Linked DNA regions of Homo sapiens. The protein of the gene in region 3 purifies or fractionates together with the protein of the main gene of each other region. This does not show direct contact. Each region holds a gene or a part of one and is shown on either strand. Other genes may lie near its edges.

What was found.
Region 1: the proteins of MPPED1 (region 3) and TXNDC9 purify together in Homo sapiens (affinity purification with mass spectrometry; 4 studies listed by BioGRID and IntAct, with this or other methods). This does not show direct contact.
Region 2: the proteins of MPPED1 (region 3) and UCKL1 purify together in Homo sapiens (affinity purification with mass spectrometry; 3 studies listed by BioGRID and IntAct, with this or other methods). This does not show direct contact.

Annotation. Positions count from the first base shown.
Region 1 is NC_000002.12:99,326,249-99,329,896, reverse strand, and holds part of TXNDC9 (thioredoxin domain-containing protein 9), read left to right. Parts: intron 1-2,243; coding exon 2,244-2,362; intron 2,363-3,648. UniProt on the Homo sapiens protein: Significantly diminishes the chaperonin TCP1 complex ATPase activity, thus negatively impacts protein folding, including that of actin or tubulin.
Region 2 is NC_000020.11:63,942,847-63,946,494, reverse strand, and holds part of UCKL1 (uridine-cytidine kinase-like 1), read left to right. Parts: coding exon 1-42; intron 43-227; coding exon 228-334; intron 335-495; coding exon of another isoform or gene 496-519; coding exon 520-690; intron 691-772; coding exon 773-844; intron 845-968; exon of another isoform or gene 969-1,412; intron 1,413-1,760; coding exon 1,761-1,950; intron 1,951-2,036; coding exon 2,037-2,098; intron 2,099-2,473; coding exon of another isoform or gene 2,474-2,629; exon of another isoform or gene 2,630-2,825; coding exon 2,826-2,842; exon of another isoform or gene 2,843-2,938; intron 2,939-3,648.
Region 3 is NC_000022.11:43,474,514-43,478,161, reverse strand, and holds part of MPPED1 (metallophosphoesterase domain-containing protein 1 precursor), read right to left. Parts: intron 3,427-3,648; coding exon 3,201-3,426; intron 1-3,200. UniProt on the Homo sapiens protein: May have metallophosphoesterase activity (in vitro).

The DNA.
Region 1 (3,648 bases), on a different chromosome or scaffold from region 3:
CTTCGGAGTTCAAGCAATTATTGTGCCTCAGCCCCCGAGGAGCTGGGATTACAGGTGTGTGCCAACACACCTGGCTAATTTTCATATTTTTTGTAGAGACAGGGTTTCGCCGTGTTGCCCAGGCTGTTCTCAAACTCCTGTCCTCAAGTGATCCACCTGCCTCAGCCTCCCAAAGTGCTGAGATTACAGGTGTGAGCCACTGCGTCCAGCCTAACAAATACTTTTTAAGGGCACATATCATTGGTAAGTTGTGAAAGCAGTCATGAAATGTCATATGTCATTAGGGAATTGTATTTGAGAGTTAAACTGTGTGTAGAAATTTCACATAAGAAAATATCAGGGTATCCTGCAAGTGTCAGCTCGATGTAAATGGATGTGATTTTGACACCGCAGTCATCAATATAGTCTGGGCCACGTTCACTGACGTCCAGAGGAGGAAGGGAGATGGCCCTCCTGGCTCTTTGGTTGGACCCCTTCTGGAGGCTGGATTCAGACCTCTGTCACATTTTAAGAAGACATTGGTGAATTAGAGTGTGTTTAGTTGATATCCTGGAAGAGTAGGAACTCTAGAAATCTTTTCATATGAGAACAGTTAAAAGGAACTGGAAGTGTTCAGTGTGGAGAAGGGAAAACTTAGGCAATATGTGATGTTTGAAGGGCCCACGTGGGAAAGAGATTAAAACTTTAATCTTTATCCAAGCTGGAATCCACAGACCAGAATTATGGATATATTGCAGTTCAGTGTGAGATGACCTTTCTAACAATTAGTGCAGGTATAGAGACTTTTTAAGCATTTATAAAGTGGTTATCAAAAGCAGACAGGGCTCTTGAGCTTCAGAGCTGCAGTATCCTCCTTTTCTCCCCAAGACGAATTGGGTTTATCTCATAAGCATTATTTTTATTTTTATTTATTTTTGAGACAGAGTCTCACTCTGTTGCCCAGGCAGTGGCGTGATCTCAGCTCACTGCAACCTCTGCCTCCTGGGTTCAAGCAATTCTCCTGCCTCAGCCTCCCAAGTAGCTGGGATTACAGGCGCCTACCACCACAGCTAGGTAATTTCTTGTATTTTTTTTTTTTTTTTAAGTAGAGACGGGGTTTCACCATGTTGGCGAGGCTAGTCTGGAACTCCTGACCTCAGGTGATCCAGCCGCCTCAGCCTCCCAAGGTGCTGGGATTACAGGCATCAGCCACTGCACCCAGCCTCATGAGCATTATTTTTAAAAGACTTGTAGTAACTTGGATCAAATGCTTCTGGTTTTAGTAGTTTAAGAGTACATGGATAGAGTTAAGTGGATATTTACATTCTGAGTCTCTCAAGTCTAAATTTTTATTTTGAAAGTTCTGAGAAAATAGATGTTTTAAGCTACAAAGACAGGTAATTGTCTTGAACCCAGGCCATGCTGTGGAGACGTTCACTGTCCGTAGACTAGTTTTGCATTGACAGTAGAAACAGGAAAGTAAATTGCTAAAAAACATTCATTTTTCTTTGACTTCAGCCAGGCACAGTGGCTCATGCCTATAACCCCAGCACTTTTGGAGGACAAGGTGGGAGGATTGCTTGAACCGAGGAGTTTGACACCAGCCTGGGCGATATAGTAAAAACCCCGTCTCTACCAAAAAAAAAAAAAAAAAATGCCAGGCGTGGTGTGGCATGCGCCAGTGGTCCCAATTCCTTGGGAGACTGACGTAGGAGGATCTCTTGAGCCCAGGAGGTTTGAGGCTGCAGTGAGCTATGATCATGCCACCACACTCCATCCTGGGCAACTTTAGCAAGACCCATTCTCAAAAAAAAAATAAATAAATAACACTTTTGGGCCGGGCGCGGTGGCTCACACCTATAATCCCAGCACTTTGGGAAGCCGAGGCAGGCGGATCACAAGGTCAAGAGATCGAGACCATCCTGGCCAACATGGTGAAAACCCATCTCTGCTAAAAATACAAAAAGTAGCTGGACATACTGGTGCCCGCCTGTAGTCCCAGCTACTCGGGAGGCTGAAGCAGGAGAATTGCTTGAACCCAGGAGGCGGAGGTTGCAGTGAGCCAAGATCGCGCCACTGCCCTCCAGCCTGGTGACAGAGCAAGACTCCGTCTCAAAAAAAAAAAACAAAAACAAACAAAAAAAAAACTTTTTTTTTTAATTGACTTCATTACAAAATACGATGGTGATTTGGACACTTAAAATGTCAAGTGGTTCTGAAAGAGATATCTCACATGTGTAATGTTTTGCCTCTCTCCAAATTAGGAATGGCTTTCTAAAGGACATGGGGAATACAGAGAAATCCCTAGTGAAAGAGACTTTTTTCAAGAAGTCAAGGAGAGTGAAAATGTGGTTTGCCATTTCTACAGAGACTCCACATTCAGGTAACTTTGTTTCCATCTGTGACTTTTTCTAAAAAAACACAGTGAATTGTTTGGCTGGAGATATACTGGCTTACTAGAGAAATGAAGAAAACTAAAAGAAAAAACTTCCTAAGTTGTTTCATTGTACTCTCTCATATGTTATTTAGTATTAAGTTAAGCAGGCAGGGGCCCAGTGACTCAAGCCTGCAATCTCAGCACTTTGGGAGGCCAAGTGGGGGGTGGATCACTTGAGGTCAGGAGTTCAAGACCAGCCTGGCCAACATGGCGAAACCCTGCCTCTACTAAAACTACAAAATTAGCCGGGTGTGGTGGCAGGTACCTGTAGTCTCAGCTACTGGGGAGGCTGAGGTGGGAGAATTGCTTGAACCCAGGAGACAGAGGTTGCAGTGAGCGGAGATCGCGACACTGCACTTCAGCTCGAGCGATAGAGTGAGACTCCATCTCAAAAAAGAAAGAAAAAAAAAGTTAATTGTTATTTTAAAGAGTAACTTAAAGAACAGTTACATGCAAAAGTATAAATGAATATTACTGAAAGTCAATATTCCCATATAAATGGCTTATATTTTTGAATTGTATTTTCACTAGCTAACTAAAAACATCTTAGAAATGTACACTTAAAATTCTTATCACCATGACAGTAATTATTTCCCTCTAGTATTGTGATGTAGCCATGATATTGGGAACGGGCAACAGCTGTTGAGAGTCAGTGTTCCTTCAGTTCCTCCTTGAAGGAACTAGCAACTGTGGTGGGGAGATGGTGGCTTGGCCAAACCTTTCACCAGAGCAGAGTTGGGACTGCCAGTCTTGGCTAGAAGGAGAAGTGATTTTTCTTAGACCACCCTAGGTCTCCAAATTTCTCTAAGGAAGCAGATCTCTTATAAAATGTTAATACCTCCTCAGAAGAGGTCACATCGTAAACCAAAGGACCCAAGCCTTTGTGGTTTTTTGTGCACAGATTTGATTAGTTGCCAACACTTAAAAATCGAGAGATAACTCCTTTTGAAAATATCCACACTTAGAATTTTTCTTTAAAAAATCAGAAAACTTGCTAATAGCATAGCTGGAACTATGATGGCAGTCATCTGCTGACTGGCACCTGCCTACCCAGGACAGACAAGCACTGTGCTCTAGAGTCTCTGGCACTCACTGTGGTTTCAGCCCTGCTCTCTTTCTCATTTCTGTGGCCTTCTTGCCCCTTTGTCTTGATCTCACAACCCAACAGCTTCATTGTTAGTTAACACCTTTCAAGAATTGATTGCCTGGTATTCATTGACTAAGAGAATAAA
Region 2 (3,648 bases), on a different chromosome or scaffold from region 3:
ACAATGAACACGGCACGCAATCCAAAGAGGCCTTCGCCATCGGTGAGAGCAGCGGGGGGGTGGGACCTGCTGCCGGACGCCTGCCTCCGGCTCCCCTCCAGTGCCTGTGGAGCAGGAGAAGGAAGCCGGGCAACCGCAGGCAGCGGCAGCGGGATGGGCACCTCTGGGACCTATCTGTGCCGGCAGCCTGCCTGTTCCTCACAGAGGGTCTCCACTCCCGCCGGCAGGCTTGGGAGGCGGCAGTGCCTCTGGGAAGACCACTGTGGCCAGAATGATCATCGAGGCCCTGGATGTGCCCTGGGTGGTCTTGCTGTCCATGGACTCCTTCTACAAGGTGGGCCCCCGCCCAGCTCCCCCGAGGACCCCTTTGTCCTCTCCCTGACCCTGGACCCCCTGCAAAAGTAGGTCCCTGGTCTCAGCCCCAGCGTGGCTGCTCCTGGGAGGCCTAGAGCCCCTGTCCGCTGGCATTGGGTGAGGGCCCTACTGTGCCCACAGCTGCTCCACAGCCTCCCCCACCAGGTGCTGACTGAGCAGCAGCAGGAACAGGCCGCACACAACAACTTCAACTTCGACCACCCAGATGCCTTTGACTTCGACCTCATCATTTCCACCCTCAAGAAGCTGAAGCAGGGGAAGAGTGTCAAGGTGCCCATTTATGACTTCACCACGCACAGCCGGAAGAAGGACTGGGTAGGCCAGGGCCCTGCAGAGGGGGCCTCGGGGGGCTGCAGGCACATGAGCCAGGCTCCGCAACTCCTGGGTTTCTTCACAGAAAACACTGTATGGTGCAAACGTCATCATCTTTGAGGGCATCATGGCCTTTGCTGACAAGACACTGTTGGAGGTAAGCACCCGCCGGGAATACCCACCCCGCTGGTATCTCAGCCCTGGCCGCCCTGTCCATGAGGTGTGCGTCCTCCTGCCCTGTCCCCAAGGCCTCCACACTGTATAGGCCTAGGCCAGCCACTCCCTACCCCAACCCCAACCCCAGGCATGCCACAGCTGGGTCCATCTGCCGGCCCCAAAAGGCAGAGCGTGGCTGCCTGAGGCAGTGGTTCCTCTCCACCGGCTGAGGCCTGTGCGCATACCTGGAGTGTCCTTGGCGTTCTCGTCCCTTGCCGTGGTCCTGACGGACAGGTGAGGACCCAGGGCTGGTGTGTTTGAGAGATTTTGCTGTAGCTCAAGGGGGCCTTCAGGACACAGCTGAGTGTGACTCAGGTTGGCCTGATCCCAGGGCCCAGGTCCTGCCCCTTGTACAGGCCCAGAGGACTCCATCATCCGGCACATAGCAGCCCCCAGCCTCCACAAGGCCTCTTCACGGGCCAACTACTGTGTGCTGAGCATGGGGACAGACCCTAAACTCGCCACGTCCCCCATTCCCCAGTGTGTTGGTGCAAGTTACCCCAAGCAAAGTAAGGAGATCACATGTGCCCAGCCCCATTCCTGCCTGATTCCTTAGCCAGCCACCATGCCATGCCTCTTCACCTAAGCCCCTGACGGGCAGCACCGCATCCCCAGACACCCCCACCTCCCCACTCCTTCCCACCTGCCAGGGTGCCCTGGGGAAGTGGCTCGGGCCAGGCCCACGGACCAGGTGCAGACACCCCCACCTCCCCACTCCTCCCCACCTGCCAGGGTGCCCTGGGGAAGTGGCTCTGGCCAGGCCCACGGACCAGGCGGCCTCAGTGCAGGGGCTGGTCCCAGTGTCTCCATGCCCACTGCTGGCATCTGGCCACTCACTGGCCCGCTGTCTCCACCAGCTCCTGGACATGAAGATCTTTGTGGACACAGACTCCGACATCCGCCTGGTACGGCGGCTGCGCCGGGACATCAGTGAGCGCGGCCGGGACATCGAGGGTGTCATCAAGCAGTACAACAAGTTTGTCAAGCCCTCCTTCGACCAGTACATCCAGCCCACCATGCGCCTGGCAGACATCGTGGTCCCCAGAGGTGAGCCTGCTGGGCTGCCTGTTGGGTGGGTGTCGGGCAGGCCAACGGCCCAGCCCCCGGTCACCCGCCCCCCCATCCCGCCCCAGGGAGCGGCAACACGGTGGCCATCGACCTGATTGTGCAGCACGTGCACAGCCAGCTGGAGGAGGTGAGCGGGGTCCCACGTCCCCACGGCCTAGCCCCCAGCCCCTCTACCCACTTCTCCGCTGCCACCACCCCCAGTGGCCTGGTCACCTCATCCCCCTGCGTTCACTGTCCCCTGCCAGGTGCCAGCCCTGAGTGTCCTGAGCCTGCTTGGCCAGTCAGATTGTCCAGCCCAGACCCCATCCCGTTGTGCTGTGCAGGGCCTGGGTTCCCTGAGGAAGCTGGGGTGGGGGTACAGGTGCTCAGGACCCAGCCGAGGGTGCAGCCCGCTCAGCACACCCAGCCTGAGCTTTTGGGAAGACAGGCATGACCTGCTGGCCCAGGATTGTGGGGTTTCACTGCTGAGTCCCACGCCAGGCCAGGCTCCTCTCTTTCTCAGGGGGTCACCCCAGGAGCGACACCCCCACCAGAGGTCCCCTGCTCCCTGAGGCATTCTATGGCTGGGCCTTGGAGCCTGAGTGGCTCTGAACACACTCCCTACCAGGATGTTGAAGGCCTGAGGCCTGCAGAACAGAGCCCAGGGTCCTGGCTCTGATTGCCCCAACGCAGAACTGCAGGTCTGGCCCAGGTGGTCCCCAGGTTACAGGCATTAGAAGCTTGCCACCCCCCATGGCTGGCTGTGTCCCCGCGGGCCTGCAGCATGTCCATTCCTGGGTGGGGGTGGCCTGGCCGCCTGCCCTGGTCACTGACGCGCCACCGTTCCCTTGTGTCTTCCTGTGTTGCTGCCACAGCGTGAACTCAGCGTCAGGTAAGACTTGCACAGCTGTCTGCACAGATGGAGGCACTTCCAACACCTCCAAGGAGCTCTGGGGTCTGGGCTGTGATCCAGCCAGGCAGCTGGCTCTTCCCCAGTCACAGAAGGGGTGGTGTGGAGTGGTCCCAGCCCTGCTTCTGCCTCCCCTTGCTGGCAGATGAGGACACTGAGGCACAGAGACGTGAAGTAGCTTGCCCAGCGTCACGGAGTCCTGACCCTGTCCTGGCCAGACTTTGCTGGAGGCTCCCCTGACTCCTGAGTCTGTCTATGGGATTTGACCCCAGAGAGCACAGCTGTCCTCCTGAGCCAGCACTGCCAGGCCTCTGGGGCAGTGACTACAGACATGTCCCAGCAGCCAGGGAGCCTGCTGTACCTCCTGTGCCCAGCCTCACGGACCAGTCAGCTTTCCCTGGTTGCAGGTGGAGGGCCTCGCGCCTGTCCTCCCACCCACCCGGGTCCTGCTTGCCCCAGCTCTGTCCTCGCAGCCCGCACAGCTCTGCCAGCAGGAACTGGGCAACTGCAGCAAGAAGCTTGGGCTGGGCCGGGGCCGCATCCCACTGTCCCTCCCCAAGGGCAGGCATGCAGGGGGGTCAGCCACAAGGGACCTGCCCTTCTCCCTGCCTTCTGTGGGTTGGGAGGCTCCTGACTGAGCCACCTGGAGGGAGAGCCCTCACATTCAGAGCCCTCCAAAGAGTTTGCCAAATGTTGGAAATGCCTCCAGGGCCCGTCCACCAGCCGTCCAGCTTCCGGTGCCTGCATGAGTCTCCGCTTGGCCCTCTCCTCGGCCTAGGAACCCGCAG
Region 3 (3,648 bases):
GAGCTAGGACTGGCAGCCTGAAGGGCCACCCCGCGGGTGCCCTGGACAAGCCACATCCCTGCCTGAACCTCTACCTGCCCTTCTGTAAAATGGGGTAATTGCAGGCCTAGCCCTGCCTTGGGGTTTGTGGAATAAAACTAAATAGTTATCCTCTTCCTCGCTCCCCAAGGAGCACCCCAGTAATAATAAATGACCACAGCCACTCTCCAGGGCCTTCCTTTGAGCCAGGCCTTCACCTGGATGGGCCCAAGCAGACCTCACAACCCCCCAACAAGGCAGGCGGTGTCGTTTCCCCACTACACAGAAAGACCAGAGAGGCTGAGCCACCTGCCCAAAGTCACACAGCTGAAAAGTGGTGGTATCCCAATTTGAACAGCCTCCAGTACCCAAAGGCCCTTGTCTGGGACCTCACTGGCTGCAGGGAGGGTTCACCAAGACCCTGTACATCGTGAAGTCCAGGGAGATGACAGCAGGCACCTGCCGAGGCCAGGGAAGATGAGACAGCCCTGCACCTCCCCATCTTCCCCTCTGCTCCATGAGGAGGCCGTGGCAAGATGAGACCAGGTCCTAAATCTGCCCACAGCCTCCAGCCGCCAGGTGGCCACCATGTGGCACCAACCAGGGCAGCCCAGGGGTTTCCCAGACACTCTCTGCTGGGGCATGGTGGCAGGGACCCAGCCTCCCAGGGGAGGGTAGCGGCCAGAGTGGCTTGGCATCCATTCCGTGGCACCACAGCAGCAGACGCAGGCAATCTGCTCACCCCGGTTGGAAACTGAGTGAAACTTGCCCAACAAATGAGCCCAGGTCTCACCTCCACCACCTGCTCCCAGCCCCAGACAGGGCCTGAGAGGAACAGGAGGAGCACCAGCTCACAGCCTCCCTTGCGGGATGGAGAGAGGGGGCGTTCAGCCCTTGTGTTAAGGGCTGTCAAGTGACAGGCCCAAGAAGAGCCTGGCACAGGGCCTGACACATAACAGAGGTTCAGACATGTGGTCTCCCTCTGCCTCCTCTGCCTGTGGAAATCTCATGCCTCTTTTGGCCCCAGTTCAAATGCCCCCTCCAACAGGGAGCCCTCCTGGATCTCACCAAACCCCTTCTGGAGCAGGGTAGCAGGGCCCCTGAACCCACCTCCTGGGCTCGAGTTCCCTTCTCTGTCCTTCGGCTTCTCCCACTCCCTGGCATGGCACAGGCTGTGTGTGTGCACCTGGCTGGTAGGGGGGTCAAGGGGAAAGCTTGCTGGGTCCTCCTTCTAGACGGCCCTCCTGGTTTTTGGCCTATCAGACTTCTCCAGATCTGAGCTCTAGTGGCCGGTGAGGCAGACTCAGCCACCTCCCCTCCTCTCCTTGTCCTTGGTACTGACCTCATCACATCCTCAAGTGCCCAGAGGTCCTTGTCTGGGACCTCACTGGCTGCAGGGAGGGTTCACCAAGACCCTGTACATCGTGAAGTCCAGGGAGATGACAGCAGGCACCTGCCGAGGCCAGGGAAGATGAGACAGCCCTGCACCTCCCCACCTTCCCCTCTGCTCCATGAGGAGGCTATGGCAAGATGAAACCAGGTCCTAAATCTGCCTGCCGCCTCCAGCCACTAGGTGGTCACCATGAGGCACCAACCAGGGCCACAGGGGTTTCCCAGATGCTCTGTGCTGGCAGTAGCTCTCTCTGAAGTCCTTCCACCCAGGCAAGCCCTTTGTGCCTCTAAAGGGCTCCTTAGCCTCGCTGACTGTGCTGCTTCCTGATAGTGCAGCCTCAGGCCACGTTACTCCTCCCTGCCTGTGAATACCCTTCTCTTCCCTCAAGGCTCAGGTTACCCCACCTCCTCCAGGGAGCCTTCCAGGATCAAGCCACACTTTTAAGCATATGTGATCTTGCCCTTCCATGTATGAAGCCCACCTCACCCTGCCAGCACTGGGCACCCTGTGGCCGCTCATTCTGTCCACCTATAGAATAGGGATAATAAATCAGTCCTCACAGGGCTGAGTAAGGATTAGAGATAAGGTTTATAGAGCCTTTAGCCTAGGGCCCAGATTACTGTAATTGCTCAGAAATTATTTCCTGCCATCACCATCATCATCATCACCACCACCCCCACCATGATCATCACCATCATTATCACCATCACTACCCTCACCATTATGATCACACCACCACCACCACCATCATCATCACCACCATCACTACCACCACCACCGTAATCATCCTCATTACCATCATCACATCATCACCATACCACCATCACCATCTTCACCATCATCACCATCAGCATAACCACCATCATCACCATCATCAGCAGCATCGCCATCATCATCACCATCATTATCACCATCACTACCCTCAATATCATCATCACACCACCACCATCACCATACTATCATCACCCTCACCCTCACCCTCATCATCATCATCACCACCACCACCACCACCACAACCATCATCATCACCATCACCACCATCATCACCACCACCATCATCACCATCACCACATCACCATCACCACATCACCACCACAACCATCATCATGACGATCATCACCACCATCATCACCATCACCACCATCATCACCACCATCACCACCACCACCACCACCACAACCATCATCATCACCACCATCACCATCACATCACCACCACCACCACCACCACAACCATCATCATGATGATCATCACCACCATCATCACCATCACCATCATCACCAATATCATCATTATTACGATCATCATCTCCCCCAGCCCCTGACATATGCATCTTTTTTTGTATGGAGCAGGAAGACAGCATTAGAGAAAGATTCCTAGCATTATAGAATATTCATTAAAGGCAGGGGTTCTGGAACCAAATTGCTTGGGTTTAATCCCAGCTCTGCCCCTTCCTAGCTGTGTGACCTTTGGCAAGGTCCTCACCCACTGTGGGCCTCAGTTTCCTCACCTGTAAAATGGAGATAATAGTACCTGCCTGTAAGTGAGCTAGTACAGCATAGCATAACACAGGTTACAGCTGATAATACTATTTTCAGTGAGATGTGGGAAAACAGGCCCAGAGAGCAGCGGTGACCTGCCTAGGTCACACAGAGGGTAAGGGGTCAAGATTCAGTCCTGAGCCTCGCATCCGGAGCTCCCTGCTGCTACTCCCATCCCCTACACCCCCTGCGCTCAGCCTCAGCTCTGGTCTCACCAGCAGGCAGGACCAGCACCCAGGCCCACTCACCATGGGGAGCCATAGATCCGGAAGCCCCGCACGGTGACCTCCGAGTCCTGAAGGTAGATGCAGTTGGTCAGCAGCGACTGCACATTCTCATAGTTCTCCGGCTTCAGCTTCGACACAGATGGGAAGTAGTAAAAGTCCTGCTTGATGAGGTCGGCCATGAACTCCTGGTCAAAGGTCAGCTCGTGGTTGCCTGCGATCACGATCTTGTACTCGTAGGGCAGGCTGCCTGCAGGGGTGGACACAGACAGACACACAGCACACAGCCGTCAGCTTGTCCAGAAGCCACAGCACGGCTGAGAGAGGGGCGGGCAGGAGGAAGCTGCATGAACTCCTGGTCAAAGGTCAGCTCGTGGTTGCCCGCGATCACGATCTTGTACTCATAGGGCAGGCTGCCTGCAGGGGTGGACACAGACAGACACACAGCACACAGCTGTCAGCTTGTCCAGAA